6 separate regions of the Homo sapiens genome follow, and regions 1, 3, 4, 5 and 6 are each reported to be linked to region 2. Evidence: microRNA targets listed by miRTarBase, many of them from high-throughput screens and not tested one by one. Region 2 holds a microRNA gene; each other region holds the end of a gene's coding sequence.
Evidence for each region. The annotated mature microRNA hsa-miR-125a-3p reads ACAGGUGAGGUUCUUGGGAGCC and lies in region 2 at 2,320-2,341, shown strand. An mRNA with a match to its seed (bases 2 to 7 or 8) in the 3' UTR can be bound and repressed. Matches are read on the target gene's strand: a 7mer-m8 pairs with bases 2 to 8, a 7mer-A1 pairs with bases 2 to 7 and ends in A, and an 8mer does both.

Region 1 (5,072 bases), not on the chromosome of region 2:
GCCAACTAGTTTCCCCAGAGGATTCCTCCAATCTCCTGCTGGGGTTGGACGGAAGATGGTTGAAGGGATGAAAACTTGGTTTTCATTAGAAAAGAGTGCTGAGGGCCCCACAGTTCAATATGCAGCCTTACATTAGTCCCCATTTCAGCCATATTTTTACCCCAGTCTCTACTGTCTGGTGTCCCTGATTCTAGAACAACTCTGGAATCAAGGACACCAAAGTCAATCCACAAATCACTAACATGACATGAAATTTTTACTGGCACATAGTGAAGTGAGAAAAGTAAGGACAAATTTGGGAATTTGTCATAAAGCTGATATAATATACAGGGCTGCTCCTGGCCGGACATGGTGGCTCATGTCTGTAATCCCAGCACATTGGGAGACCGGTCCTTCACCAGAGAATAAACCTCTAGTCTCCTTTGGGATGAGGAAAGGGTAATGGGATGAAGAAAGGCATGAGGGAGGAATGTGTGCGTAACAGCCAGCTGTATGGGTAGGTGAGGGGGTCTAAGGATCTGACATTAGAATTTCAATGAATCCCCATTTTCAGCCCTCTTTCTTCCATAATGCCCACTGTCTCCAAGGCCTCTGTCTTCCCAGGAACATCCTTGTGCCAGTATACTTTTCTGCAGGCTCTGCTAAGTCAGTCACCACTCTTCTATTTTCTCACCACCAAAAACTTGACATCTCATGTCTGCTTCTATATTCTCCTCTATTGTCTTTTATACCCTCCAGTTTGCTTATGCACTCAGGTTCATGAAATAAAGATAAACTCATGTTGTTAATCAGCCACATTTAAATGCATTTTAAACAAATTAGGCTGGGCACAGTGGCTCATGCTTGTAATTCCAGCACTTTTGGAGGCTGAGGCAGGTGATTGCCTGAGCTCAGGAGTTTGAGACCAGCCTGGGAAACATGGCAAAACCCCGTCCTACAAAAAATACAAAAATTAGCCAGGTGTGGTGGTATGTGCCTGTAGTCTCAGCTACTCAGGGGGTTGAGGTGGGAGGATCGCTTGAGCCCAGAAAGTTGAGGCCGCAGTGAGCCATGATCATGACGCTGCACTCCAGCCTGAGCAACATAGTGAGACTTTGTCTCAACAAACAAACAAAAACAACCAAACCAAATTAACACAGAAATACCCTTTTATCTTAAAGTATATCAGCTATGATTCTCAAAGGTATACGATTCTCAAATATTGGTCCACTTGCACAGAAAAGAAAAAGGAAACAAAAAATATTTCCTCACATATAAAATGTAGGTAGGAAAGTATATGGATTACATTTCTTTACTTGCATCATGGATACATAGTTCAATTCAGTTCAAATCAAAACCATTCAATACATATTTACTGAGTCCCTTCTGCGTGTCAGGCACTGTTTTAGGCACTTGTGATATATCAGTGAAAAAAACAAAGGCCCCTGCCCACATGGAGCTTACATTATAGCCAGGGGAAACAACAGTAAACAATAAACACAAATATGTGAAGTATCTAGGGTGATAGGTGATATGAAAAACATAGAGCAGGTGAAAGGGGTATGGGATTTCTCGATCTGGAAGGTAGACAGCTGCAGTATTAAATAGTATGGACAGGATAGGCTTCAGTAAGAAGGCAACAATTGAGCAAAGATGAGAAGGTAAGGGTATAGGGCATCTGCAACAGCTAGTGAAACGGCCCAAAGGTTAGAACAAGGCTGGAGTTCGGGAGAGGTCTGGGCTGGAGATGTGAATCTGGCAGCTGTTAAACAGAGACGGTATTTTAAGCCAAAGACTGTATGAGATCACTGAGGCAGGAACTACAGAGAAAAGTCATAGTCATGTCTTTCAGGGAAATAAGCAATTGGAGAAATTCAAATTCTTGGGAAATCTAAGACCATAGAAACATGGTAGAACAATTTTAAGAAACAGTGTATACCTCACTCTTTTTCTGCCCATCAGTCATACAGGACTTAAGAGTTAGAGGCCAGCTTTTTTTTTAAGTAAATGTAGTAATATGAAAAATTCTAGAGATACTGGTATATATTCTGGATTTATAGCTTTACTTTAGATAATTCACACTTATAATACTCACGTGATTGAAACTGTTCTATCTCCATATAAAACAAAGAAGTTGAACTTGACTTACTTCCAATTATGTCTGTAAGGATGGAGTATCTATTTCATTAAGTACAGTGAAGCATTAGGAGCCAATTCCTCTGCTTTCTCTCCGTATTTCCCTGCCTGAGTATGGCTCCTTCAGTCACCTTTCTCTGGTCCTCTTTGGTGGGCCTCTTGATGTGTTGTTCTAGGGGCTATCTTAAGAGACACTTCCACTTGATACAAAGCATATTTCAAATCTAATGTTGTATGCTTGGCAAAGGAAAAGGTAAATAAAGTTATCTGAAAGGTTTCTCCCCAGAATGAAGTCTCAATATATCTCTCTTCAAAAAGGCATCATTATGTTTTAAGGAATTGTGGTTAATTTTTGTAGGTATAATAATGGCATTGTGGTTATGTTTTCAAAGAGTGCTCGTTTTTTAGAGATACATCTCAAAATATTTATGGATTAACCATAATAAAAAACCGATCATTATAGAGGGAAGTCTGCATAAATATCTCCAAAAATAATTCCTAGGCTCCAAGACAGCATTACAAATGTAGCGTTTAAAGAATTATTGCAACAAAAATACTAAAGGAATTGCTAAGGAAATAATTTATGGCATATACACACACTAATCTGATACTAAATGATAGTCTGTTGTCATTTCTAATCATTTTACATACTCTATGGGGGGAGGAGTGAAAAATGACAGCCCTTGAGCCAAACGAAACCTAACAGCTGTTTTTTAAATGCAGTTTATGGGAACCACTATTGCACACATTCATCAGTGGGTCTCAACCAGGGACAATTTTGGCCTCTAGGTACACCTGGCCATGTCTGGAGACATTTTTGACTGTCACAACTGGGGGAGGGGCAGCTATCAGCATTGAATGCTGGCATCTTGTGGGTAGAAGCCAAGGATTCCCCTAAACATCCCAGGATGCACTGGGCAGCTTCCTATAGCAAAGTATTATCCGGTCCAAAATATTGGTAGTGCCAAGGTTCAGATACTGTAGTTTATATATTGTCTCTGGCTGTTTTGTACTAAAATGGGGAAGTTGAATAGGTGTGACAGGGACCACATGGCCCACAACACCTAACGTATTTACTATCTGGCCCTTTACAGAAAGTTTGCCAATTCTTGCTCTATATAAAACCATAAAATATAAATAAGCATCTCGTGTACAGTAAGTTATCTATCAATGCTAGAAAACTCCCTTTAACATTTTTTCTTCTAGAAATGAGAAGCAACATTTTAATTTCTACCTCTTCTAGCCATATAAAGGGCTAGAGTAAAAGGCTGTACTATATTTTATTCTGATTTATTAAAGGGATACTTAAAAGAGTGTTTCTCAAAAGTTAATCCACAGATCACTAACACGCCATGAAATTTCACTGGCACATAGTGAACTGGGAAAAGTAAAGATAAATGTGGGAGTCTGTCATAAAGCTGACGTAATATAACAGGCTGTTCCTGGCCAGACACGGTGGCTCATGTCTGTAATCGCAGCATACTGGGAGACTGAGGTGGGAGAACTGCTTGGAGCCAGGAGTTTGAGACCAGTCCAGCAACATAGTGAGACTGTCTCTACAATAATAATAATGATAATAATAATAATAATAATAATAATAATAATAAATTAGCCAGACATGGTGGTGCACATCTGTAGGCCCAGCTACTTGGGAAGCTGAGGCAGGAAGACTGCTTGAGCCCAGGAGTTTGAGGCTGCAGTGAACTATGACATCACTGCACTCCAGCCTGGGCAAGAGTGAAACTGTTTTTTAAAAAAGGGTCTGGGTCGGGGGTGGGGGAGGGGCAGGCACGGTGGCTCACACCTGTAATCCCAGCACTTTGGGAGGCCGAGATGGGCGGATCACCTGAATGGTTCGAGACCAGCCTGGCCACCATGGTGAAACCCTGTCTCTACTAAAAATACAAAAATTAGCTGGGTGTGGTGGCAGGCACCTGTAATCCCAGTTACTCAGGAGGCTAAGGCAGGAGAATTGCTTGAGCCTGGGAGGTGGAGGTTGCTGTGAGCTGAGATCACGCCACTGCACTCCAGCTCAGGTGACAGAGCGACTCCATCTCAAAAAACAAAAAAAAAAAAAAATGGAGGGGGGAACTGTTCCTACATTTAAAAATATTAAAATGTCCTTTCTTTTCTGAAACAATGCTGATAATAGGTGTTGTGTTTTTAATATGGCAAAATTAAGAGTTGGGAACATTGTGCCAAACCATTTTTTTTTAATGTTCGTTTTTGGAAATCCAAAAACAAATGGATTTTTGAGGGATCAGGGAACCACTGATTTAGAATCTTGTGCTCCAACATAGATTCTTTGATGTTTAGTATATTTCACACAACATTGCTGAAGGTATTTCTTAAATGTGTTTTGCAGTGTCTAATAAGGGATGAACTACAGCTGAAGGCTTTTCCACACTCATTACAATCATAAGGTTTTTCTCCAGTATGAATTCTCTGATGTTTAGCAAAGGATGAATCATGCCTAAAGGCTTTCCCACAATGACTGCATTCATAAGGTTTTACTCCAGTATGGACTCTCTGATGGATAGAAAGATGTATTCTCTGGCTAAAGGCTTTCCCACATTCCTTACATTTATATGGTCTTTCTCCAGTATGAGTTCTCTGGTGTTGAGTTAGGTATGTACTATGGCTGAAGGTTTTACTACATACATTACAAATATAGGGTTTCACACCAGTATGAATAATCTCATGTTGCCTAAGGTGTCTAATCTGGAAAAACGCTTTTCCACAGTCTTTGCATGTAAAAGGTTTCTCTCTAACATGAGTTCTCAAATGCTGGATCAGTCCAATGCTCTGGCTGAAGGCTTTCTCACATACCCTACATTCATAGGGCTTTTCCCCGGTATGAATTCTAACATGTTGAGTAAGCGATGAAGGATGTCTGAAGGTTTTCCCACACTCCTTACATTCATAGGGTTTCTCACCAGTATGAATTCTCTGATGCG
Region 2 (5,072 bases):
TGGGAGGTTGGGAAGGAGGGAAGGGGGAAGAGAGCTGGCCGTAGACCCGTCTCCGGCCCCCGCCTCCCCCTTTCCTCCTCCGCCCCTTTCCCGCCTCTCCTCCCCCTCCTCAGGTCGCTACCCCAGCCCTGGGCCCCTTCTCAAACCACCCCCACCCCACCCCCAGCTCCAGACCTGGCTCGAGCTGCGAGGGGGAGGGAGAGAGGGAAGGAGAAAAGAGAGAGAGAGAAGGGAGGGAGACCCAAAGAGAGAAGGGGGAGGGGAGGAAAGAGAGAGACCTAAGAGGGAGGGAAGGAGAGAGAGAGGGAGAGAGACAGAGACTGAGAGAGAGCAGGAGACGGAGGTGAGGGATGGAGAGAGGGAAGGGGCGGAGGGAGAGGAAGTGAGGAAAGACATCCGAAAAAAGGGGGTGGAGAAGGGTGAGAAAGAGGAGAGAGACTGAGAGAGGGCCAGAGAGAGAATGAGAGAGACAAAGAGGGGGAAGGGGGAGAAGGGGAGGATGAAAGACAGAAGGTAGAGGAAAAGCAGGAGAAAGAGGGGGAGAGAAGGAAGAAAACAGAAGCGGGGAGAGGAGAGAGGCGATGGGCAGAGAGAGAAGCCAGCGCAGAGCCAGGGAGGGATGTCCTGATGCAGGAGGAGGCTGGGAACCAGGGAAGGTGGAAAGAAAGAGGGAGAGAGAAAAAGGCAGGGCCAGAGAGACCTGGACTGCGAGAAAGGAACCGGAAGGTGCGCCTGGAGCAGGGGCAGCGAGAACCAGACAGTCCAGGAGGAGGGGCTGGGCACGGGAGAGACCCCAGCTGGAGGGGCTCAGAGCCCAGGGGTGGGGAGGGTGGGTGCTGGGTCCCGGGGTCCAGAAGCTGGAGAAGGCTGGGGACACCTCCTGGATTCAAGAGGGAGGACAGAGATGGGGCTGGGCAGACTTTGGGAGCCTCTTCCCCTCTCTGAGGCTCAGCCCCCTCACCTGCCAAATGGGGATGCTGAGGGCACCTCGCTCTCTGGAGTGGGAGGTGTCAGGGAGAGGACTGGTGCTCAGGGCCTGGTATGGGGTCAGCGCTGGGAGATTGTGGCTGTCATAGTTGTAAATGACCCAAAGAAGGGAGGAGAGAGGAAAGAAAGCACCTAGGGAGGCTCTGATGGTTGGCTAGCCCCTGGCCTCCTTAGCCCTGGGCCTGGAGTCTCTGCAGACTGACAGGAGGGTAGGTAGGAAGCAGGTGTGCCCAAAGGGCCAAATTACGAGACAAATGAGGTTCCCTCCCAGCCGGCACCCAGGAAGCCAGGTTTTCTATCAGGCCATGCCTTCCCCAGGAGGCCTGCCTGGCCGGAGGGAGGAGGGGCTGGGGGCAGGGACTCCTGGGTCTCTGGGGAGAAGGAGGCTTTGGATCTGGACTCATGAGTCTGAGGGAGGAAGGGGCTGAGTCCTTGGATTCCAGGAACATTTGGGGAGAAAAGGGCCAGAGGCCTGGATTCCTGGGTCTGTGGTGAGGAAGGGCCTAGACTTCTGGGTTCTTTAGGGAGGAGGGGGATGAGAGCCTTGACTCCAGGGTCCCTGATGAGGAAGGGGCTGAGGGCCTGGACTCCTGGGTTCCTTGGGGAGGAGGGGCCGGGGGCCCGGACTCCTGGGTCCTGGCACCCACCCGTAGAACCGACCTTGCGGGGCCTTCGCCGCACACAAGCTCGTGTCTGTGGGTCCGTGTCGGGGGCTCACCATCGCGGCTGGGGCCTCCCCGGCCCTCCCCCTCATCCCTGGTCCTCCTGGTCCCTGTCTGTCTGTCTGTCGGGTCTGTCCACCTGCCGCGCCCCCCGGGCTGAGGTAGGAGGTTGTATAGTTGAGGAGGACACCCAAGGAGATCACTATACGGCCTCCTAGCTTTCCCCAGGCTGCGCCCTGCACGGGACGGGGCCCGGCGGGGACCCCCAGCCCCACTCAGGGACCCTTAGCCCCACTGGGCTGCCCCAGGGACCCTGGGAGGAAGAGCCGGGCTCTTTTCTGTCCTTGTCCCTGCATCCCCTCCTTCCCCTGAAATCTGTTTTCCTTCCCTGTCTGTCTCCATCTCTGCTGTGTCTCTGTGGCTTCTGTGTCTCTTTCACAGTGGATCCTCTGACTCCCTCTTATTCTGGCTTTCTAGGTCTCTGCCCCTCCCGATATCTCTCTGTGTCTCTATTTCTGTCGTTTTTGGTCTTTCTGTCTCTGGCTCTCAGAATGTCTCTGTGCCTATCTCCATCTCTGACCCCCACCCCAGGGTCTACCGGGCCACCGCACACCATGTTGCCAGTCTCTAGGTCCCTGAGACCCTTTAACCTGTGAGGACATCCAGGGTCACAGGTGAGGTTCTTGGGAGCCTGGCGTCTGGCCCAACCACACACCTGGGGAATTGCTGGCCTGACTTCTGACCCCTGACTCCTCATACCCTTCCTCCAGAGCATGACATTTGACCACCAACTGAAACCTGACCTCTGACCCCAGACCACTGGCCCTTCCCCCGCCCTGTGGTGACTTCATAAAGGTTACTAGCTTCTCCCCTGGCCTTGAGACCCACACGATGGCCCTGCTGGCTCTGGCCAGTGCCGTCCCGTCTGCCCTGCTGGCCCTGGCTGTCTTCAGGGTGCCCGCCTGGGCCTGTCTCCTCTGCTTCACAACCTACTCTGAGCGCCTCCGCATCTGCCAGATGTTTGTTGGGATGCGGAGCCCCAAGCTTGAAGAGTGTGAGGAGGCCTTCACGGCCGCCTTCCAGGGCCTCTCTGACACCGAAATCAGTGAGGAGACCATCCACACTTCATCAGTGTCCTGGGGAAGGTGCAGAGGGAGGGCAGGAGAGGCCCAGAGGGTCAGGCTGAGGGACAGACAGAGAGAAACAGTCAGAGGAGAAAGGCTCAAAGACCATGAGAACAACAGAGACTTAGGGACAGAGAGACACAGACAGGGGAAGACAGCAGGGCAAAGACTCAGAGAGGGGAGGATGGAGAGTCAGAGAGGGGAAGATGGAGACTCAGAGAGGGGGAGGATGGAGACTCAGAGAGAGAGGAAGATGGAGACTCGGAAAGATGGAGACTCAGGAGTATGGAGAGTCAGAGAGGGGAGGATGGACACTCGGGAGGATGGAGAGTCAGGAGGATGGAGACTCATAGAAAGGGGAGGATGGAGAGTCAGGAGAGGTTGGAGACTGGAGAGGGAATAGAGACCCAGAGAGGGGAGGATGGAGACTCAGAGGGTGGAAGATGGAGACTCAAAGAGGATGGAAACCCAGAGAGAGGAGGACAGAGATGAGGCAGAGACTAGGGGAAGCAGGATAGCGACTGGTCGGGGGCAGAGACTCAGGGAGGATAGAGACTTGGGAGGGACTCAGGAAGCATAGCGACTGTGGGGCAAAGAGTCAGAGAGGGGAGGATACAGACTTGGGAGGGCAGAGACTCAGAAACAGAATGTTCGCATTAGGGACATGGTGTTGCGGGGAGCTGCCTCCCCCAGCCCCTGCTCCCTCCCTCACCGCCAGACTATGATGAGAGAAGCCACCTGCATGACACCTTCACCCAGATGACCCATGCCCTGCAGGAGCTGGCTGCTGCCCAGGGTGAGTGTGTGGGGATGGGGAGATGGGAGATGTGGACTTGGAGCCCCTAAGAAATGGGTATGTGGGAGGGCCCAGGGCAGAGGAAGGAGGCCCCCAGAGTTGGGCAGTGATCCGGGAGGGGAAAGCTGGGAAGACATTGAGCTCAGCTACTTGTCCAAACGAAGGCTGAAGGCAGCTCTAAGAGCCAGGGGCTGAAGGTGGTGAGGGGGAAGGGACGCTGCAGAAATTGCCTAGAGCTGGAAGTCCAGATGGGGTCGGGTAGGCATAGGTTCTGCCATGGCTGCATGGCTCACACTCTTACTGGCTATGAAGTTCTGGGTGTGTCACTGCCCCTCTCCTGGCCTCAACTTACCCATCTGTAAAGTGGGACAATCTTCTTGCCTCCTAGGATGGCCATGGAGCTCAGTGCAGGGGTTGGGGCTGCCTGATGAGCCTGATCTTAGGGAAGGCATCTTCCTCTAGGATAGAACACACACACACTCGCACACAGACACGCTCAGAGACATACACTCACACTCACACACACACACAGATTTCTTATAAAGTGATTCCACATTTTTGAGGTGTGAGGCAATTAGAGGGCGGGAAAACAGGAACAGCAGAGTGGATCACTCAGGTGACAGCAGTGAAAAGAGACAAGGTGTGACTGTCCTGGTGAGACAGGCACATGTGACAGCCTTGAGGTGTGTGGCTGTGCGAAGAGACCTCAGGGCTGGGGGCCACGCAATGCCGATGGGCAGCATGGGCGGTAATCATGCCTGATCACCATGGCCATGATCCCCACGAGGTGCCAGACCCTGGAACTGTGGAGGCTCGGAGTTGCAGGAGTTACAGAGCCCTGCGCTATAGAATAAACTGGCTTCCTCTTAGGTCCAGGAGCTCAGGGCTTATTCCCACACCCACAGTCGCTCCTTTTGCTTCCTGCTTTGCCCTCCAAGCGTCCTGTCAACAATCCCGGAAGAGGGAAGGTTCCCATCCACCCAGGGGGCATCCAGGGCCAGCCTGGAGAAGGCCTCAGCTGTGGCTCTCCCCATCTCCACCCTAAAGGGAGACCTGAGGCCCTAAACCTCTCCATGTGGGGGTGTGCAGGATTCCAAGAAATGCCCTTTCTCCCCACATAGGCTGCCTTGTTACAGAAGCTTTTGAAAAGATGAGGAACCTTTGGATCTGGGAATGGAAGCCTTCTGTGGGGCCGCATGGGGGACAAACTTGGAGGGGAGAGAGAAGAGGCTGGGTGAGGGTCCAGGCCAGAGCGGAGGCCCGAGTGGGGGCTGGGGCCGTGAAGGTGGAGAAGGGCCAGGGCCAGAGAGTTAGGTCTGCTGGGCTGTTTTGGGAAGCATAGAGAACAGCATCTGAGACAGGTCCTGCTCTGTGCCTGTTGGGCGGTGGGTCATCACCGAAATAAGGAGCCTGAGAGAAAGAGCCGGGGGCAGATGATAAGCTGGGTTAGAAGGCAGTGACTTTGAGGGGTCCCAGGGACGTTTAGGAGGCAGCTAGATACCT
Region 3 (5,072 bases), not on the chromosome of region 2:
CTTATTAACTAGAGAGCTGTTGGACTGAACATCTAGGTCTGCATGACAGCACTAATAGAAAACACTATTTTAAGCTAGATTTGACAAAAGCAAACATCCAGATATTTGTGAGTCTGTGGCTATTTCTATTGTTAATGATGATGTGGCTAAAGTTGCCTTTCCTTTTTATTCTGTGATAACCCTTTCACTTTCCCACTTCTCTCGCTTCCAGCCTTCTCAGGCAAGCTCCAATTTTACCTCCAGCTTTAGGAGGTTTGCCCTTTCTGGCTCCAGCACCCTCCCTCTCCCCTCTAAGCAAGCACTCCTGCTTGTCGAGAGCATTGTACACACAGCTCCCTGGAGAGGCAGGAGCTGCCATGGGTAGAGCCAATTTGGGGTACAGAGAAGGACAGAAAAGAGATGGGGTAGAGATGGGGAGAAGGAGTTCCTGACAGCTGTCCAGCCTGTTCCCTGGCCTCCCTCTCTCACTCTGTCTTTGTGTACCTCTGATTCTGTTTTTCTTTCCATTGCTCTCTCTCCTTCCTTTCCTCTTTCCCTCCACTCCCTTTCCCACACTCCCACCTGGTCCCCTCCCTGGACCCCCCCCAGATGAAGTCTATGCCCAGAAGATGAAGTACAAGGCCATTAGCGAGGAACTGGACAACGCACTCAATGACATCACCTCCCTCTGAGCCCCACGCCAGCGTGGCCACCTCAGCTCTCTTCTCTCCTCTCCTTTCCATTCTCTCTATGGGGAGGGGAGCAGGCAGGAGGAGCAGAAATTGCCAACATTGCACAGCCAGGCTGGGAGCAGCCTAGGGAGAGCCCCCATCATGCCCACCACCCACTCTGGCACTGGCTTCATCCTTTACCTATCCCCTTCCACCCTCCTTTGCTGCTTAATAAATTCTGAACTTGGTCTCCATGCTGTTTTCCTGCCCTCCAGAGAGCACCTCTATCGCCACCACGGAGCACTGGTTCACTCCTGACACCCTGGCACTTACTGACACCCCCAGCCCCTGCACTGAGCCCACCCACAAAACACCATGGCCCACGCTGAAACCCCTCTGCACAGGCACTCCCTGGCTGTCGCTCTCTGATTCACCACTGCATGTGGGCACGTGTGGCCCCATCAAACCATGACCGCCTCTGGTGCCAATCCCTGACCTCAGAGCACTTAGCTGGGGTTCCAGGATCAAACAGAGTGACTGGAAAGGAAGTAGGGTGGTGAGGTGCAGGACAGGGGCAAGAAGGTTGCAAAAGGTCTGGAATGGAGCTTGGAAAAATGTTGGATATCAGCAACATGGGGCTTTCACTGCAGCAGCAGGTCTGTTTTCTACCTCAAGTCTGTCTGTCTGGCCCTTCCTTTCCTGGCGCAGTCTTTGTCTTACCTTCTGTCTCCAACTTCCTTAAACCTTCTAAAGAAGAGGATAAAGTAGTTTATGACTCAGCCCTCCCCACCCCACCTCTATGACCCCAAGGCCTTGAGTGAGGCATCCACGTCCGTCCTGTTCCCCTCATCCTAGTCAGTCCATCTGTTTGTCCCTGCCAAGGGGCCCTGAGGTCCGTGAATGCATGTGTCTTCCTTGACCCACTCCATGTCTATATGTCACCTTCCCCTGGCCCTGCCTCCCCACGTCTCCCCCTTGTGTCTCCCTTCTCCCTCACCTGCTGCTTCCCCTCACAGAGACCTTGGCCAGTGCCAAGGAGGAGAACGTCGAGATTCACCAGACCTTGGACCAGACCCTGCTGGAACTCAACAACCTGTGAGGGCCAGCCCCACCCCCAGCCAGGCTATGGTTGCCACCCCAACCCAATAAAACTGATGTTACTAGCCTCTCAAGGCCCTTTAATCCTTTCTTTGGTGTTGGCAATGGAGTTTGAGGGACCCCTGAATGAGCAGGGCCTGGGTCCTTGCTCTGCATTGGGACTTCCTTTTCAGGGGAAACTGGGATGGAGGGCCTGGGCTCATTGAGGAGGGGCTGTGAACAGGCTCTGTGAAGCAGGGAGTCTGACAGGACTGGGGGACATCGTGGGCCTTGTGCCCTACAGGCAGAGGAGCTGCCATCCATAGCACCGCCCTGTTCCAGCAGCCAGCTGGGCCAGACAGCACGTCCTGAAGCAAAAACTGCAAGAAGTGACACATTTTCCTTGAGCAGGGTGAAAACCCAAAAGCCTGAGTGTGATGTTAAGCCTAGGGCTGCTGTCTGCCCTACCCCTCAACACATACACTGCACACACACACAAACACACACACACACACAGCCATCCCAACAGTATCAGTCATTTCTGTCCTCTTCCTGATAGCATCTGTGGTAGGCAGAATAATTCCCCTTCTCCAAAGATGTCCATGTTCTAATCCTGTGCATTGTTCTTATCTTACATGGGAAGAAACTTGGTGATTAAGATTTTGAGATGGGATGATTATCCTTGGTTATCTAGTTAGGCCCAGTGTAATCCCAAGGGTTCTTGAGGAGACAAGGAGGTCAAATGTGGAGGTAGGAGTTGTGACAATGGGAGCAAGAGATTGGAGTGATGTGTGGAAGGAGGAACAAGCCCTACTGACATCTGACTGCTGACCTCCGAACTGTAATAGAATAAATGCATTACCACTAAATTCGTGCTAATAACAGTAATAGGAAATTCAAATACCATCCTTCTGATTTGGGGAACAAAGGTGACTAACACATATTTTATTATAAATATTTATTTTAAAAAATTTCTTGGCAGTTAAAAGGAAGTGGCATAATGAGCAGGACAGGACAGTTACCGGCTCCCCCTCAGATGCCTCTGGCTGGCTTCTCACATTCTCCAAGATCCAGCCTCTAGGCTCCAGTCTCGGCTACCTCTGCTGGGCGGTAGCTCACACCCCCTTTGGTTCCCCTTCTGTGTGTACACAACAGGAAAGGCTAATCAGAAAACTGGCCCAGGAGCAGCTCATTTGCATGCGCTTTGCATGAAGTGACTCCACAAGGGTGGGGGAAGCTTGTGCCTGAAGAAAGGGTCAGTGTAATACCTGTGCTGCCTTCTCATCTGCACAAGGAACGCGACGCTGGTGACAGCAAAAAGGAGGCCAAAAACCAGGGCTAGGATGTCACCTGCGATGGAGAGCAGAGAGGGCTGCTTTGGGAAGGAAGAGGGGTCTGCAGAGTTCCTCAACACCTGCCTCAGTGCACTCCACCACCCCTGCCCCGAGTTCTCAGGCAGCCCCTAGTGCCTCAGTCTCCAGAAGAGGCCAGCCAAGGGATGAGGGTGGATACACGAGAAGGGGTAAGATAAGCACCGTTTTTGCTTCCTAAAAGCCAAGTAAAAGGGCCGTTTGGGGCCAGGCACAGTGGCTCATGCCTACAGTCCCAGTGCTTTGAGAAGCTAAGGTGAAAGGATTGCCTGAGCCTAGGAGTTCGAGGCTGCAGTGAGCTATGATCGTGCCACAACACCCCAGCCTGGGCAACAGAGTGAGACCCTATCTTTAAAAAAAGGGGGGGGATTGTTTTGCGAGAGGGATGCTGGGAGATTTCTCAAGCTTCATTCTAATCAATTAGCCTCTGGGGACAATGGGGGAATCCCCACCATGATCTGCCTCTCTAATATTGGGGTTGGGGTCTGTTCTGCAGAAAAGGAGAGGGAGCAGAGGCGGTCCTGAGCAGCCCTGGGGCTGAATGGTGCTGAGGAGTCTCCTGGCATCAGGACCAAGAGGAGGGGCAGACTCACCAGCAGCCAGGCAGGAATTCAGCTGGACTGGAGAGAAAAAGGAGATGTGAGAGGCGGGCTGTGACCACCAATGACAGACACTGGCACACACATGGGAGGATAAGGGACTACTGGCTGGGGGGAAACCAGACAAAGCTGTACCTGGCTCAGCAGCCCGAGGACTGCTGTCCACTCCAGCAGGGAAGGAGGCCTCAATCACTCGCCCATTCAAAGGCTGCGTCGCTCGGAAGTTCAGCTGTAGCCGAGAGTCACCAGGTCCCCACAGGGTGTCAGAGAGGGTGTGGAGCTAGGGAGGTCAGTGGACAGTGTGGGTGGGTTCATGGCATGACAGGAAACAAGGGTCCCAGGCCAGCTCACAACCAGCACCTCAGGGCTCCACCCTCCAGCTCCTGTATTCCCCATCCAGCCTCTTGATTTCTTTTATAAATAAATAAATGTATCCTAAAGATGGTAGGCAGTGGTGGGATCATAGCTCACTGCAGTCTCAAACTCCTGGAATCAAGCGATCTTCCCACCTCAGCCTCCTTGAGTAGCTGGGACTAGGCGCATACCACCATGCCCGGCTATTTTTGGTTTTGTTGGGGTTTTTTTGGTAGAGATGGGGTCACACTATGTTGCCCCGCCTTGTCTTGAACTCCTGGGCTCAAACCATTCTCCCACCTCAGCCTCCCAACGTGGTGGGATTATAGGCGTAAGCCACAGAGCCCAGCCTTGATTTCTTTCTTCTCCTGTTTCTCATCTCATCTTACATCCTCTTTCCCCCGCACCCACTGTGTCCACACACACCCCAGGCCCACCTGCTTAGCACTCAGCATCACTGTCTGGTTAAACACAGTCCAGATGACACCCTGGGCACAGGGCGGTGTAGTCAGAGACCCCTCATATTGGAAGTAGCGGCTGAAGTCAGAGGGCAGGAGTGCAGATATGTCCAGTCCTGGGACCTGAGTCTCTGAGCCTGTGAAGAGGATCTATGTTGGGGTCTCATCTACATTGCACCCCCTTAAAGCTTCAGGGTATAGGGATACAGTTTCACCTCCCAGAAGCCAAGGTAACTCAACTCTGAGACCACTTCTTCGCTAAGTGCAGGCCCTTCCCATAAGACGTAACTCAAAAAAAAGTACAGGGCTTTGGAGCAACTGGAAGAGGCCTGAGGAAGCAAGAGAGGAAGAAAGAAAGGAAGGAGAGAAGGGAAGGTGGGAGGGAAGGGAGGAAGGAAGAGAAGGAAAGAAGAAAGACCGTCTGAGTCTACACTCTTAACTCTGTGTACCATCATAAAGTGCTGGGCCACAAGTTTAAGCCCAGAGCAAATTAAAAAGAAAAAATGAATCCCAGCACTTTGGGAGGCCGAGGCTGGTGGATCACAAGGTCAGGAGTTTGAGAGC
Region 4 (5,063 bases), not on the chromosome of region 2:
ATGGTGGCTCACGCCTGTAATCCCAGCACTTTGGGAGTCTGAGGTGGGTGGATTACCTGAGGTCAGGAGTTCAAGAGTTCAAGACCAGGCTGGCCAACATGGCAAAACTCCATCTCTATAAAAATACAAAAATTAGCTGGGTGTGGTGTCATGCACCTGTAGTCCCAGCTACTCAGGAGAGGTTGAGGCAGAAAAATCGCTTGAACTCAGGTGGTGGAGGCTGCAGTGAGCCTAGATCACCCCATTGCAATCCAGCCTGGGTAACAAAGCCATACTCTGTCTCAAAACAAAAAAAAAAATTTTGTAAACTTTTAAAAACTGAGAAAGTTATATTTTACCAATAACTTAAGAATCATTTCTAAATCTATAATTTGTAAAATTAATGCAATGACTTTAATTGTGGACTACCAAATACCAACTATTTACTATAAAACAGAAAATCCTAATGGGAGAGGCTTATTATTTGTCAAATTTATGAAAGTGGAGGAATGGTTGTATGTATTTAGGGTGAAAACAAAATCAGTTAATTTGATTACTATATTCAAATGTCTACTACCTTTAATAAATATAGATTTTTCAAAACAGTTAAAGATGGGCTAATTTGGATTAAGTGCTTTAACACTGACATTATGTTAAATTATTGAGCCCCAAAATTCTCTTTAAAGACTTCTATCATGGAATTAATCACAAATATACTAAAAATTGACGCCTCCCTCCCAAAAAAAGTCTAAGAAACCTTTACTTCTTTTAGCTCTTAATATACTAAAAATTGACACCCCCCCCCAAAAAAGCATAAGAAACCTTTAATTCTTTCCTTTAGCTCTTCTTAGTAAATGTCTTGTTTTCCTTTTATGTTTTTGTTTTGTTTTGTTTTTGAGATGGAGTCTTGCTCTGTTGCCCAGGCTGGAGTGCAGTGGCGCGATCTCGGCTCACTGCAACCTCCGCCTCCTGGGTTCACACCATTCTCCTGCCTCAGCCTCCTGAGTAGCTGGGACTACCGGCGCCCGCCACCATGCCCAGCTAATTTTTTGTATTTTTAGTAGAGACGGGGTTTCACCGTGTTAGCCAGGATGGTCTTGATCTCCTGACCTCGTGATCTGCCCGCCTTGGCCTCCCAAAGTGCTGGGATTACAGGCGTGGGCCACTGCCTTTTATGTGTTTGAGACAGGGCCTCACTCTGTTGCCCAGGCTGGAGTGCAGTGGTATGATTATGGCTCATTGCAACCTTGACCTCTCAGGCTTAAGTGATCCTCCACCTCAGCCTCCTGAGTAGCTAGGACTACAGGTGTGCACCACCATGCCTTGCTAAGTTTTTATTTTTTTAGAGACAGGGTCTCACTATGTTTCTCAGGCTGGTCTTGAACTCCTGGGTTCAAGTGATCCTCCCTTCTTAGCCTCTCAAAGTGCTAGGATTACAGGTGTGAGTCACTGTGCCCAGCCTTGTTATCCTTTTCAAAATCAAGTTTATCTGTTATTTCAATAGCCAAATTCTTTGCTGTGCTCTTTCTAGTTTTTTGGAAGAATTTTTGTTTTTTTTTTGAGACGGAGTCTTGTTCTGTTGCCCAGGCTGGAGTGCAGGAGCACGATCTCAGCTAACGGCAGCCTCTGCCTCCTGGGTTCCAGCGATTCTCCTGCCTGAGCCTCCCGGGTAGCTGAGATTACAGGGACATGCCACCACGCCCGGCTACTTTTTTGTATTTTTAGTAGAGACAGGGTTTCACCATGTTGGCCAGGCTGGTCTTGAACTCCTGACCTCAGGTGATCTGCCTGCCTTGGCCTCCCAAAGTGCTAGGATTACAGGCGTGAGCCACAGCGCCTGGCCAAAACTTAATAATTTTACATTACTGCTAAGGAATTATCACAAACTTCCATTATATTATTTAACAATTGTTTTTTATAATCACAGTACAACTATCAAGAGTTGGTTTCTAAAACCACAATTTACACTTTTCCACAGAGCCAAAGTATACTAATTTATATTAATCATTCCAAATATTCCCTACAAACTTCATTCTTATTTGCTTACCATAGGAAAACACTGTTTTACTATGCATCTTTTAAAATAATTTCTGAAATAATAGCTTTTTATTTTGAAAATCTTTGTCTAGCATTGCATATTTTAATGCAGATTAAAATTGGACTGAATTAGACTGTCTACCCAAAGCTGCATTAAAGAGAGCACTCTCTTTCATTAATGAATTAAATAAATAAATACATTATAAGGCTAAATCGTTTTTGAAATCTTTTAAGTTGAATAATTGGGTAGAAAAAGTATATATATTTGGATGTATATAAGTTATTAAATGAAGTGTTATATAATTACAAAAATTAGTGGTACTATCTGACTAAAACACAAAACTAAAAGTGACTTCAGAGCAGGAATGGAAAATGTCAGGATATACTAGAAAATTTAGATGTATTAATAGAAAAGTTGTTCCCATATTTACTCCCAGGAAGTTTCTGAGGCATAGCTCCTAACCAAGTGAGTGGATGTTTTAACCCAAATAGAAGCTCTAAAGTCCCTACTTGTATTGTTACATATTTGCTTTCATTATCTTCATGCTTTTCTTGAAATGAATCTGTACATTCAACATACAAATAAAAAGCATCTATGTTTGTAAAAAATGTATTTCATCACCTATTGGATATACCTATTTCATTTTAAGAGAATTAAGAGAAAGTTTAAAGACTAGGAGAGTTTAAAAATATATTAAGTTTATATGATTTTTTAATGCAAAAAAGAGATTCTTCCCCTCAAAAGACGGAATAAAAATCCCTGCAAAATGCACTACTCCATACTCTCCATTAAGTGCTGACTACATTGTAGAAACAAAATCTCTCGTAGAGAACTAGTTGTGAGAAATAATGACTATCCCTAAAGATATTGTACTCTCAATTTTTACAACTTAAGTCAATATTTAATTGTTCCTAATATAAAGATTTAGCTTTGGGAGAAAATGAGCCTTTTGAAATTTTAACCTAGGTCAATCTAGTTGATTGGCATTAAGGACATAAGGGCTCATATACTTGTCTATGCTTCTGTCTCTTGCAGGTTGAAACACCATTTCAGTCTGTTCCCATACTTAAGCAGTTTCAGGTCTCTGGACAGAAATTAACAATGTGAACAAGTTGGGTGATGAAGCACAGATAAAGTCCTTAAAATACATCTTAAGTTTACAGTCCCTTTTCGCATTTAATTTGTATAAGAAGCACCAAAACTGGAGCCAAGGTTTCAAAAGGTAATGTTAACAGCAGGAACTATAATTTAATCACACAACACTATGTAACATTCTATATTTTTGCCTGTTGATATGTAACATAGTTAAGTTTATTACAAACATTATTTCCTAAGACTTATGGTATAAGTGCTCCTTTTCAAGTATTACCACTTAATAGTGTTTAATCTACAAGGTAACATTAGGTAAATCAATGATAAATGTATATAATGCAATACACTGTGCCACTTCTTCCTACCCTGTGTTAAGGTATTATTAACAAAATCAATTAAGAAAAAAACAAGACAACTATTATAACTGAAACAAGGCTATGAACATCACAGATGCATGTCTGAGTAGATAAACAGCATTTCCCCTTAACATGAAAGTCATTTTGTCAGAGACTCCTGTATCTTTAGGCTAGCATTGTTTTAGCAGCAGCTAGTCTTCAGGACAAGATCAAAAATTTCAAGCGAAAAGACAACGAGTTACTCTGAGAAAACATCAATCCACATTACTAATAAAAGAAGCAAACTGCTGGTTTCACCTTAACATAAAATTGGGTGTGTTCCCTTTCACATGTGATTTAATTCATTTATGTGATGACAGCAAAGCTTTGGATTTCTGTGGTACATCAATGAGATGGACTAATTTGTTGAGAAAGCTCTTATTTGTTTTAATATTTAAATTGTAGCAATACAATAACTAGAAAAAGGTCAGTGCCTCTGTAGCTTTAAACCCCATCAATTTTCATTTGTTTTTCAAAATAAAGATGCAATTAAATCTATGCTTCTGCAACAATAATGCAATAAAGTATCCTTTCCTGAATAAAGGAATTGAGGTTTATCCCAGTAGAAGCTTTAAATAAGGTAGACTGTTGCCAACTATGTATCCATCCTGTATGTTTGATATATAAAATTATCCGGAAAGCTTAGATTGTCTTGTAAATCTAATTCGGCTAACACTGCATATAAGCAGCAATGGAAATGAACAGAAGTGCACTCAATATAAAACACTTTTCAAAACTACTCCAAAAAACAAATGACAAAAGTGGTTAAGAACAACTGAGCGTCTGTTGTGTGTACCAGATGTAAAAGATGGACCCCGTGGTTACTTGCACGGTTTGAATTAATGTGAAGGTAAAATTAAGACTTAGTCCACTTCCATCTCTCCAGAGGATTTAGTATGCTGTGAGCTGTCTTTTGTTGAATCTGATTTAGTTTCAGTTCCACTCTGTCCATCCATTGGGCCATTGTGTTCACTATTAGCTTTTGGTTTGTCTTCAGGAACTTCTGCTTTTGGTTTGGGCTTGTAAATGATGGGGTTACAGAAATTATCCAGTTCCTAAAGACATGAAGAAATTGATTATATTAAAACGATTACAGAACAAGTTACCATTAACTTTCTAAATTCCACATTAACTTTCTAAATTTTCACATAATTCCCCCTTTCTGAATTTGCTCAGCTAGATAGCCAACTGTTTTCTTCAAATGCCTCATGAGAGATTTACCTTGTTTGTTAGTATATGTCTGTGGCAGTCAAAAATTATTGAATCTTAAACAATTATTTTTTGTACTTAACCTTTCTAAAACTTGTTTCTTTATAATCAAATACAGTTTACTTTGGCAGGAATAATTTTTAATTCTTCCTTTAAATTACGTGTAATGCTTTGCTATGAGAATTACATCAAATAACACCTATTTCATAAACTGAAAATTTTCAACATTTATATGAAAACAATTCTAATAAATGGAATCATACAAATACATACACAAACGACATTTTTTTTTGTTTGAAAATAGCTGAGTAGCCTCTCCTGAAGGAAAAAGTGCCGTGAAAGTAAATTGG
Region 5 (5,061 bases), not on the chromosome of region 2:
AAGGCACCCTGACCCCAACCCACACCACCCTGGCTGGCCTTCCCTGTGCCAGACCCCCACACAGTACACTGCTGCTGCATATCTACTTTTTTTTTTTTTTACTAAACTGAACATCCAAGCTTAAAGGGCCAGGCTGTCATCCCTAGGGCTGGAGGCAGCCCTGGCCTCTCCTAGAGAAGCAGATGTCAGGCCAGGCCTCCCCAGCAAAGTCAAGAGACCCAAGTTCTAGGCCCGGCCTTGTCCTGCTCATCCCCTGGGAATCAGGGCCCAGGTTCATGGCCTCCCAGCCTTTGCTGGATCCCCAGGCCACTGTCCCTGCAGAGTGGAGGCCAACGAGCCTTCACACTCTGCTGCGCTCTTTGCCATCAGGAAGGCGGGTGATGCAGCCGCAGATCCTGGAGGTGAACTTCAACCCCGACTGTGAGCGAGCCTGCAGGTACCACCCCACCTTCTTCAACGACGTCTTCAGCACCTTGTTTCTGGACCAGCCCGGTGGCTGCCACGTTACCTGCCTTGTCTAGGCACTCGCTGTCCCCAAAACCTGTGCTTGGGGCAGGATTCCAACCTCAGTTCTCTGAGCTGCTTCTGCAAAGGCCCCCATGTCCCTCCCCACACCGGCCCTGGGCATAGCCTCAGCCCCAGGCCTCTGTCCTGCCGAGCCATCCTCCCGGCGCCACACTCCGGGAGCACAGCATCCTCCTCTCACCTGTGGGTCAGAGCAGGACAGTGATGGTGTCCCCAGGGCTGAGCACCACCCCACGCCCTGCCCTCACCCCTCACCACCATCTGTGCACTGATGAGTCTCCAGTTTAGCCAAGGGCTTTGTTCCTGGCATGGAGAATTTGTTCCTGGCTGCTGTGTTTCCAGGGGGTGCTGGGGGAAGGGTTCCGTGGAGCGAGACAAGGTGTCCTCGGGAGCAGGGTTCCACCGGGAAGCGTTTGGGAGCCCTGTATCACACGGGGCAGGCGGGTTTCTCTTCCGGGGTCTCTGCTCTTATGCATCAGGACGACCCCGGGACGGCTGTGGGGCCCCACACTGCACCCACAGGGCTCTATGCGACAGGGGCCCAGGAACAGCCTGAGGCCACCACCCAGCAAGCCCGCCTTATCACCCATTCCAGCTCACCCAGAACCTTCACCAGCAAACCTCCTGCTGAGGTCCTGGCAGGAGGCCACCGTCTTGTTACCGTTTCCTTTTCGTTTGCTGAGGGTCACAGACCCCAACAGGGAAATCAGTATCTGTCTTCCCAGTGGTTGCCCTGCTCGCCGGGCACTCCACGGGGTCCCGCCCTTGTGTGAGATGGGCCAGGATCCTTCGGCAAGGGGCGCCTGGGGCTGGGGCTGATTGTGGGCGGTGGAGCGCCAGACAGAAAAGGATTCCAATGAGAACTTCAGGTTAAAGTCAGATGCCACCTACCAGGGTCTACAGTCAAAATGTTGGCTTTTTCTTATTTTTTAATGTATGGGAGAAAAATGTAAAATTCCAGTTCTTTTCTAATTGTGTTTCTGAAATTAGGAGTCAGCTGCCAGCGTTTTTGTGTGGCTGCAGTGTGCCTGGGCCCAGCTCACGGGCAGTGGGTGGACCTAACTGCCCAGGCAGGCGAGAGCTACTTCCAGAGCCTTCCAGTGCATGGGAGGGCAGGGCTAGGTGTAGCGGTGTCTCCTCTTTGAAATTAAGAACTATCTTTCTTGTAGCAAAGCTGCACCTGATGATGCTGCCTCTCCTCTCTGTGTTGTCTGGGCCCTTGTTTACAAGCACGCGTTACCCTTCCTGAGGGGAGCCATGCTCTAGCCCCTGGAGGGCCTGTTGCAGGGGCAGGGCGGGCCCGTCGCCTTTGGCAGCTCCTGGAGAGCTGTGGACATGCAGTCCCCCTCAGTTCGTGCTGCAATAAAGGCCATCTTCTCTTATTTCTGCCCTCCTTTCTCTTTGGACCCTGGAGCCACAGGCTCAGCCTGGCCTGTCGCCCCGGCTGTCACTGAAAAGCCCCGGATACCAAGAAGTCACCCACAAAAAGTGGGAGAAGAAATAAGATGGCCTTTATATCGCAGGCCTCCACCCCACAGTCTGATTTCCATGTGCTGGATCTGTTTCCAAGCCGGCCGGGAGCCTCGGTCCTCGAGTGGCCCCACAGCTCTAGTGGCCCTGGAGATAGCAGCCTCCCCACACTTGCCTCCTTGTCCTGGGGTGGGGACGGTGAGAAACCCTGGCTGCTGGGGCGTCTGCAGGGCTCCTCGGGCCACTGCTGAGCAGGTGCATGGACACCGTCAGTGGGTGGAAGCAGCGCCACATGGTGACCAAGGAGGTTAAGACTCAGAAGGCAGGCCAGGCATGGTGGCTCACGCCTATAATCCCAGCATTTTGGGAGGCCGAGGCAGGACAGAGAACAGGTCACACAAAGTCAAGAGATCGAGACAGTCAGACAGCATGATAAAACCCTGTCTCTACTAAAAATACAAAAAAAAACAAACATTAGCCGGGTATGGTGGTGCGCGCCTGTAGTCCCAGCTACTCAGGAGGCTGAGACAGGAGAAACGCTTGAACCCAGGAGGCGGGGGTTGCAGTGAGCCAAGATCACACCACTGCACTCCAGCCTGACGACAGAGTGAGACTCCGTCTCAAAAAAAAAAAAAAAAAAAAAGCGGAAGGCAGAGCGGCCCTGAGGCAGGCTGCCTGTGGACTGTGCTGCTTCTCTCCTTAGCCTCCCTTCCAGGGCAGGTCTCAGGACTGATGCTCACACGGACTCTGTCCAGAAGCTTAACAGCTGGTGCTCTCACTAGTTCCCAGCTCACTTAAAACCTGGTGCCCAGGAGATAGTCCTGCCCAGGGAGCAGCTGGGACAGCCCCCAGAATCAAGACCACATGGTCCAGGCTTTCCATGATTGTAGATGGCTATTCTCTGTCCCCACATGTCCTTGCACCTCTGCTCACTGCAAATGGACACCCCCAAGGAAGGCCAAGAGCCAGGGACTTCATGAGCCGGAAGACCAGCCGGCTCCAGGTGCTGAGGCAGTTGCCGGGAGATGTTTATCCCACTAAATACTTCTTCCTGGTACTCATTTGCACCCTCATCACTGTGTTAAGAAGCCATCCAAAGCCGGAATTGACCAGGCACAGTGGCTCACGCCTGTAATCCCAGCACTGTGGGAGGCTGAGGCGAGCGGATCACTTGAGGTCAGGAGTTGGAGACCAGGCTGCCCAATGTGTTGAAATCCCATCCTACTAAAAATACAAAAATTAGCCAGGCATGGTGGTACACACCTGTAATCCCAGCTACTCTGGAAGCTGAGGCAGGAGAATCACTTGAACCTGGGAGGCAGAGGTTGCAGTGAGCCAAGATGGCGTCACTGCACTCCAGCCTGGGCGATAGAGCAAGACTGTCTCAAAAAAAAATAATAAATAAACCCACTCAGAAAGCATCAAAACCTTAAGTTCCCAGTGGATGACAGCAGCTTAGAAAAGGAGAGAATGCTGTCTGTTACGAGCATTTCCTGGGGAAACGTCGCCAGGCTGTTAAAAGGAAGCCGGCAGACGAAATGCTAAATGCGTTCTCCTCTCGCCCATTTTTCCAAGGCGTTTTGTGGCAGTGCGTGTTTTGTGGCCAGCAGGAGCTATGTGGGACATTTGTTACAGATGAACAACCCCACGAGTTGCGGAGATGGCAGAAGTCTGGGTTGCACTTTCTCCAATCCCTAAGTGTCTGGCACGGACTCAGGTGTCCCTTGACACTTCAAAGGATACCCCTGTGCCCTGCGGGGACGGTGCATGCTCACCGGCATGCTGGAGCAGGAGACAGCCTGGCCTGTAAGTTTCTTGCTAGCAAGGACCTCTCTGCCATCCGCTGCTTGGACTGTCTGCACAGAGCTCTGGAGGAATTCAACTCTGGGCGTCTTGGAGAACTTCAGAAATAAGTTAATAAAAAGGATACACAGAGGCTCCCCAGCTGGCTCCTCTGCACCGGTGAGCATCGGGAAAGCCATGAGGGCTGAGGGCTCAGCTGAGTGCCCGTGGCCGCAGAGTTTTTGGATCCTGCAGAGCGTGATCTGTTGGGCATCAAACTCTGCCAGAGTCAAGGGAGCGGGAGGCTGAGGGTCAGGGTGGAGTAGCGCAGCCCCTGGGCGGGAGCCATCCCTTCTGTCAGAAGAATGCAGTCGACTGTCTACCCATTTCCCTGAGCTGTTCGTTCTTTCGTGTGTGTGTGTGTGTGTGTGTGTGTGTGTGTGTGTGTTGTGCGTGCACCAGAGTGGATGGTATAGACAAGAGTCTCCCTATGTTGCCCAGGCTGGTCTCAAACACCTGGCCTCAAGCAATCCTCCCGCCTCAGCCTCCCAAAGTGCTGGGATTACAGGTGTGAGCCACTGTGTCCAAGCTTTTGTGAACGTCAGGTTGTGTCTGAGCGTACAGGTCGGGAGAGGACACAGGAGCCGGGGGAGAAAAGAGGAAGCAGCAGCCGCGGGCTGTTGAGTGATGACGAGCTGTCTATGAACATTTTGCCAATTTGAATGAACTTAGCTGCCAAAAACAAAAAACAAAAAGCCCGGCAGGTCAGGCCTGGCCGAGGGGAGGGAGCCGCGGGCTGTGTTGCTGAGTGCTGCATGGGTGTGGTGACCGAGAGCAAGACGGAGGAGTGCTGCGTATGGGACTCGGCTCATTTACTCCAAACAGCTGCCTGGAGAGGCCATGGGTCACCCAGTTCGAAGCCGGGGTGAGGGAGTGAGTGGCTGTGACACCTCCAATCCTGGCCGCTCTGGGCCAGCAAGGAGGCCCTGTCTGCTGGAGTCGGGACCTAACCTTTCCTGCCTCTGACTCCCCCTCGAGCCAACTGGGTGTTTGCGGGGCTATCCCTGGTGCAGTGAGGCTGCCATAAGCCTGGGCCCCCGGGGGACAGGGCAGTCAGCACCCCCAACTCTGTCCTGGGTAAAAGCAGCTGAGGGCCACGCACTGGGCAGGACCAGGCGTCGAACAGTGGTTGTGGGCCCGGCCATTAAAGGGCCCGGGCTGAGCATCCCGGAAGCCATGGGAAGCGGACAGGACCCCCTCCCTCTGCTGAAGCCCACGGCCCCA
Region 6 (5,072 bases), not on the chromosome of region 2:
CTCTCTTTCCTCTGTTTTCTCAGGGTGCAAAGTGGAAACAATTAAACTTAACGTGGAGGCTGTGAACACGCACCGTGACAAGCCAACTGTAAGTATTTTCCCACGATGAACACACCAGTTTCCCTGCCACCTTGAGTCTCTGAAGCTTTGACATCAAGAGACTGGGGTTTCTTTTATGTACAAAAGGGAAACAGATTCAGAACTTACGTCCAAATGTAGTTTGCTACGTCTGAAACTGATGTTGGAATTATTTTTTTTTTAAATTAGTACCCCTTTCATGAGTCTTAACCTTGAATGTTGGCTCCTGGAAATCCAATTAAATATGGAAAGTGTTTGGCTGAAGTGAAATGCAAATTACTACCCCCCTCCAACCCCAAGTGTCCCTTTAGAAAGCAGAGTCCAGAGGAGCCTATAAGGTGGGGGTCAAGAGGTGTAGGTTTGTTCCTAGGTCTGTCACTGGTAATCTGTGTGGTCTTCAATAAGCCCCTTCCTTTCTTTGGGTCTTTTTCCTGCTTTGGAATGTTATGCTCAAGGAGCTTCTCCCTTTTAGCCCCCTGATGCTAGGAGGCCAGGCCATGGGCCATGCCCTGTGAGGGACCCTGTGTGCAGAGGAGCAGGAGTGAGGGAAGCTGTTGTGGTTACAAGCGCATTATTAACCTGTATGAGTGAGCTTTTGGCTTGGCTTTCATTTGTGTGGTGTCACTCCATTTCCAATCAGAACAACTTCCCCAAGAACCAAACCCCTGTAAGGATGAGAAGGAACAGCTTTACGCCTCTGTCCAGTTCGAATACAATAAGGCGTCCAAGAAATTACAGTGTTGGGAGCCGGCCCCTCAAGCCCCTCAGCCCTCTCCGTGCCCAGGACATGCAAGAAGGGGCCGACTAGCCGAAGACCCAAGTCAGCATTCCGGTGGTGTAACTGTGTGTTTCCCTCCAGCCCTGGCCTCCTGCCCTTGTCACTAATCACCAAGGAGTCATTAACTTCCTCCCTCTATGCCCACCCCTGACACTTCACCATTAATCTTAACACAGAACATGAGGTTATGTGTTTATAGGACAACTTAAGCTGTTCTTCAGTTTGAAACATCTTTTCACCCAGGGGCAAGTTAGCAAATTGAGTCTTTTAGGACAGATTCTCAGATGGGATGATCTGGAGGAGGAGGAAAAAGATACACTCCCTTGGGGCTGAGCATGCCCCACACTCTTGGATCTTCTCTCTGTTCCCTGGTGTCTTCACTAATGTCCTCATGTTGGTGAAGTGTTGGGGGATGGAGGGCGGGTGAGCAGTCGGGGGACAAAAAGTCTATTTTTCCTTCACTTTTGTCTCTTCAATGTGTGTTTTCCTCACACTCCTTACTTGACTGCTTTCTTCCCCCACTTTCATGTCCCCTCTGGATTGTCCAGTGTAATGCATGGCATTGTGGTGTCTGTCTAGGAAGGAAGGGGTGATTGACAAGAGACAAGTCTGGCCCAGTTAATGCTTTCTGCAGTGGGTCTAAATGGATCTGGACTGGAGGAGTCTTTCCTTTCCTTTCTCCCTTCCTCTCCAGCCAGGTCCTGTAAGGGCCAGCCCAGACTACAGGACATCCACAGAATATTCTGGAGCTTGCAAGTAGACATAGGGTGAGAGTTCTTGCCTCCTTTCATGAGAAACAGTTCTAAGTCTTCGATGCCCTGGGAGAATCTGGCTCTGAGCATGTGGGAAATGTCTTGGTTTTTATTTTTAATTTAGAGTCAGGCCTGGGTCTTTTGAGGTCTGCAGAGTGGGGTTTAGGAGAGTAGGGTGGGCTCTAGCTCTTGCAGGGCTCTTAGAGAGCAGTCATGTCTTTTCTCCCATGACTCTCAGGTTCTTTGCCAATCACAGCAACTTTTCCTGCCAAAGCCAGTATCCTCTGGGGCTGTTTAGAAGGGCAGTTAGATTCAGGAGTCACCACTGATGTTTGAGTTGCTCAAGGCAAGAGGCAGAGAAGAGTTCACTAAAACTGCTTATTTTTGAATAATTTCAGCACACTGTCCTTAAGAAGAAAGAAACATCAAAACAAAATAGTTTTTACATGACCATTTTTTTCCCAAATGTGGAAAAGCTTGATGATGAATTTAATCTCTCTCATTGGAGTATTCTTTTGTTCATAAAGAGAAACTATCTCATCTTGATGTCCAGAGAAGTCCTTGGAACCCTGTGGGATCTAGCTCGTAACTGTTTGTATTTCTCTATTCACTTCTGTCATTTCATTTTCTTTGTAGGGTTAAACAGAAAATGTTTAGGGAAGAAATTCTTAGCCCCTTGATGACCATGATGGCTTATTCTCTTTCCCAATTTTGCATGCAAAATGTACGAATATATGTATGTTTTTCTGAGAGGCAAGTTTAGGGTTCTCATGGGATTTTAAAAAGAGATAGGTGACTCCCCACCTTAAAGTTATCTGCTGGTCTTTTAGAGGTAACCAGTGAGAAGGAGTTAGCTATTTTCCAAGGGTGTTTTCATTTGGTAATGGAAGACTTTTTGCTGTGGTTCTCATCCAGGAGTATTCCTTAGAATTGCCTTTAGGATTGTTGAATCATAAACATGCCTGTGTCCACCTTATGCTTAATACTGACTCAGAATCTCTGGGATCTGGGTCTGGACATGCATGTATTTAAGTAGCTTCCCGGATGATTCTGATTCATAGCTCGGGTTAAGAACTCCACCTTAGGAAGTTAGGTGGAAAAATACTGGATAGTAGTTTCTCAGACAAAAGTGTCAGCCTAGGAATTCTGAATTCCTCATAGTCCTGAAAGGACAGTTCTTTGGGTTTGATGTTTGAGCAGATCATAATGTTAAATGATATAACCCCCTGGAAGGCAGGCTGCTGTGTTTTAGAGGGTTATTCTAGGTTCTAGTCCCATCTTTAACCCTTTACATTGCTGAGTGATGTGGAACAAATCACTGAATTAAATAATTGTCTCTAGAGAGCAGCTGGGGATTTTAAGCACCCTGGAGAGAGGTGCAGACCCTGCCAGGATGATAAAGGTTGTCATCACTGGCAACTGACTCCTGACCCCGGGTCCTTTACTCGTATGTCCCAAGTAGGATACCATAGGCAGCTTCTAAAGGCTGCTTACCTAGATTCTTCTCAAAATTGTGTCCAAGATGTTAAGTAACCTGCTATTCCTGTTTAGTGGTTACATAACATGTACTTAGTGTCTTTGTGGAGCTTTGGGCTGGTAGGGGCAGGGATAGGGGAAAGCTAAACAGAAGTAGAAGAAAAGGTCCTTGTCCAGAGGAAGGTTATTTTAAGAGACAGGACATGTAATTTATAACAAATGGACATTTGCAATATAGCAACAGTCTGAGTCTAGAAGTGTTCAACCATCACATCGCTTCTCCTGACTTTTCTGTTGTCCTATGGCTATGAGACTACAGGGGTTGGGGGATGGGGATGCCCCCACCACCACCAGTGTGAGAATGAGATATGGTTGGGGAGGCGTGTTTGGCACTTTTACAAGGTTGCATTGTCCACATTTGCTTGGATGGTGGCATCTGTAGCCCAAATGGGCATTCAGTCTTTTCTTCTGCTGTGAGGTAAGAGTAATTCAGACCTAATGAATGAGAAGAGGGAGCACTTTGATCCACAGACTTTGGATTAACACTGTACCCACTCTTAGCAAAAGGGGACTTCTCTAACAAGCTAGCATTGTGTTAACCTGTCATTAACCCAGCATTAGAGACAGGTCACTGGGATGTTCATTCTGGCTCTCAGCCTGCTGTTATTTCCCCACTCTCACCTGTGCTAGTTCGCTTTCTCCAGAAGAGGAGCTGAGGTGGTCTTATCCTCAGATAGGACATGAGAAATTGGAATTTGGCAAGCAAGGGCTTCAGCATCCTTTAGTTTCTAAAGCAAGATCCCTTCAGAGAAGTCTAGCAGGAAGAAGCCAGGAGAATGTAGAATGGAAAAGAGCTCTTACTCCAAATTTTAGAGAAGTTTCAGCTCTACTTCTCATCTTTTCTCTCCTGGTCTTACTTGAATGCATGTTGGTAATCTGTATACATTACTATGACTGTGTCTATCACAAGTCCTACAAAATAAAAATGGACTTAAAAGTACTCTCTGCTGAGGCTGTAAGTTTTGTTTTGTGAGAAATAGGTAAAGACATTAGCATTTAATCTACTGGAATAAGCTGGTTGCTGTGGCTTATACCTGTAGTCCCAGATACTTGGGAGGCTGAGGCAGGAGAATCACTTGAGACCAGCCTGGGCAATATAGTGAGACCTCACCTCTAAAAAAGTTTTTTATAAATTTACTTGTCTAAAGTGGGGAAAGGGAAATTATTCTGTTTTCTTATTCTTGCTTCAAGACTATGACAGATTTGAAAGAGAATTCTAAAGCAGATTTAGAGAACCTGCTTCTCTTCTTATCTCCTAATCCCTAAATTGTAATTTAGCTCTTATCTGTATTGTTGTTTTGTTTTGGTAAAGGGATGATTTTTACATTGAGTTTTAAAGTAGAATAAGAAAAGCTTCTAAAAACTTGCATTGTGCTAGGGATCTGCCCTATATCTTTGCCTCTGGTGTTTCGTTGTTGTTGTTATTGTTTGTTTGTTTCCAAAGAAGTTGGAGTTAAGGACACAATATATTTGTACCCCTAGACTGAATGGGTGAGTATTCCATATGAGGATCTGGGTAATCCTCTTTGCAACCCACATTTGGTCTTCAGAGACACTGGCATTTTGAAGAAACATATGATATAGCTGTTTGGAAATAAATTCATCTATGTTACTTTTTTTTTCTTTTTTTTTTTTTTTTATGAGCAGGAGATCTTAATTGACAGAAACTCATTGGTGGTTGGAGTGGCCAATGGGCACGGGAAAAAGTATCCAGTAATCAGAAGAATTGTATCTGGGTTATGTAATCTTATGCACATTCCATTGTCTTTGCCAAGCCCAGAAGCCATGTTGTGTTCATTGTTAAGAAATTTGATAGATTTACCCAGCTTTTCTATGTATTTTGACTTATTGAAAATATGTAACAACTGAGTCGGGTTGCAGCACTGGTGGGGTAGAATCGACTTTCCCTGAAGGTGACACAGATGTCA

Region 1: miRTarBase lists ZFP69B as a target of hsa-miR-125a-3p. The part of its 3' UTR that is shown has no 7-base or 8-base seed match.
Region 3: miRTarBase lists TPM2 as a target of hsa-miR-125a-3p. The part of its 3' UTR that is shown has no 7-base or 8-base seed match.
Region 4: the mRNA of HSPA4L is a reported target of hsa-miR-125a-3p. Seed matches in the 3' UTR shown: 8mer at 1,755-1,762 and 7mer-A1 at 207-213.
Region 5: the mRNA of TTLL12 is a reported target of hsa-miR-125a-3p. Seed matches in the 3' UTR shown: 7mer-m8 at 703-709 and 7mer-A1 at 1,703-1,709.
Region 6: miRTarBase lists PFKFB2 as a target of hsa-miR-125a-3p. Seed matches in the 3' UTR shown: 7mer-m8 at 3,762-3,768.

What each region holds. Positions count from the first base shown.
Region 1 is chr1:40,462,955-40,468,026 of GRCh38, reverse strand. ZFP69B (ZFP69 zinc finger protein B) reads right to left here. Exons shown (of 5, transcript NM_023070.3): 5 at 4,312-5,072. The coding sequence ends at 4,438. Among named protein-coding and RNA genes, the nearest start is that of ZFP69, 12 kb to the left of the region's middle.
Region 2 is chr19:51,690,987-51,696,058 of GRCh38, forward strand. MIR125A (microRNA 125a) reads left to right here and starts at 2,268; the gene lies at 2,268-2,353. It overlaps SPACA6 (sperm acrosome associated 6), which reads left to right and starts at 2,344. Exons shown (of 9, transcript NM_001316972.2): 1 at 2,344-2,754; 2 at 3,492-3,569. The coding sequence starts at 2,541. It overlaps SPACA6-AS1 (SPACA6 antisense RNA 1), which reads right to left and starts at 2,470. Exons shown (of 2, transcript NR_108100.1): 1 at 1,648-2,470. It overlaps MIR99B (microRNA 99b), which reads left to right and starts at 1,626; the gene lies at 1,626-1,695. It also overlaps MIRLET7E. RefSeq lists an enhancer at 1-619.
Region 3 is chr9:35,678,758-35,683,829 of GRCh38, reverse strand. TPM2 (tropomyosin 2) reads left to right here. Exons shown (of 9, transcript NM_003289.4): 9 at 589-898. The coding sequence ends at 671. It overlaps CA9 (carbonic anhydrase 9), which reads right to left. Exons shown (of 11, transcript NM_001216.3): 7 at 4,488-4,645; 8 at 3,832-3,976; 9 at 3,691-3,717; 10 at 2,996-3,077; 11 at 2,671-2,865. The coding sequence ends at 2,805. Among named protein-coding and RNA genes, the nearest start is that of CA9, 7.4 kb to the right of the region's middle.
Region 4 is chr4:127,832,179-127,837,241 of GRCh38, reverse strand. HSPA4L (heat shock protein family A (Hsp70) member 4 like) reads right to left here. Exons shown (of 19, transcript NM_014278.4): 19 at 1-4,559. The coding sequence ends at 4,368. Among named protein-coding and RNA genes, the nearest start is that of PLK4, 46 kb to the left of the region's middle.
Region 5 is chr22:43,163,468-43,168,528 of GRCh38, reverse strand. TTLL12 (tubulin tyrosine ligase like 12) reads left to right here. Exons shown (of 14, transcript NM_015140.4): 14 at 370-1,907. The coding sequence ends at 521. Among named protein-coding and RNA genes, the nearest start is that of TSPO, 14 kb to the right of the region's middle. RefSeq lists enhancers at 1-321, 4,477-4,979, 4,980-5,061.
Region 6 is chr1:207,071,486-207,076,557 of GRCh38, forward strand. It overlaps PFKFB2 (6-phosphofructo-2-kinase/fructose-2,6-biphosphatase 2), which reads left to right. Exons shown (of 15, transcript NM_006212.2): 14 at 24-88; 15 at 719-5,072. The coding sequence ends at 886. Among named protein-coding and RNA genes, the nearest start is that of C4BPB, 15 kb to the right of the region's middle.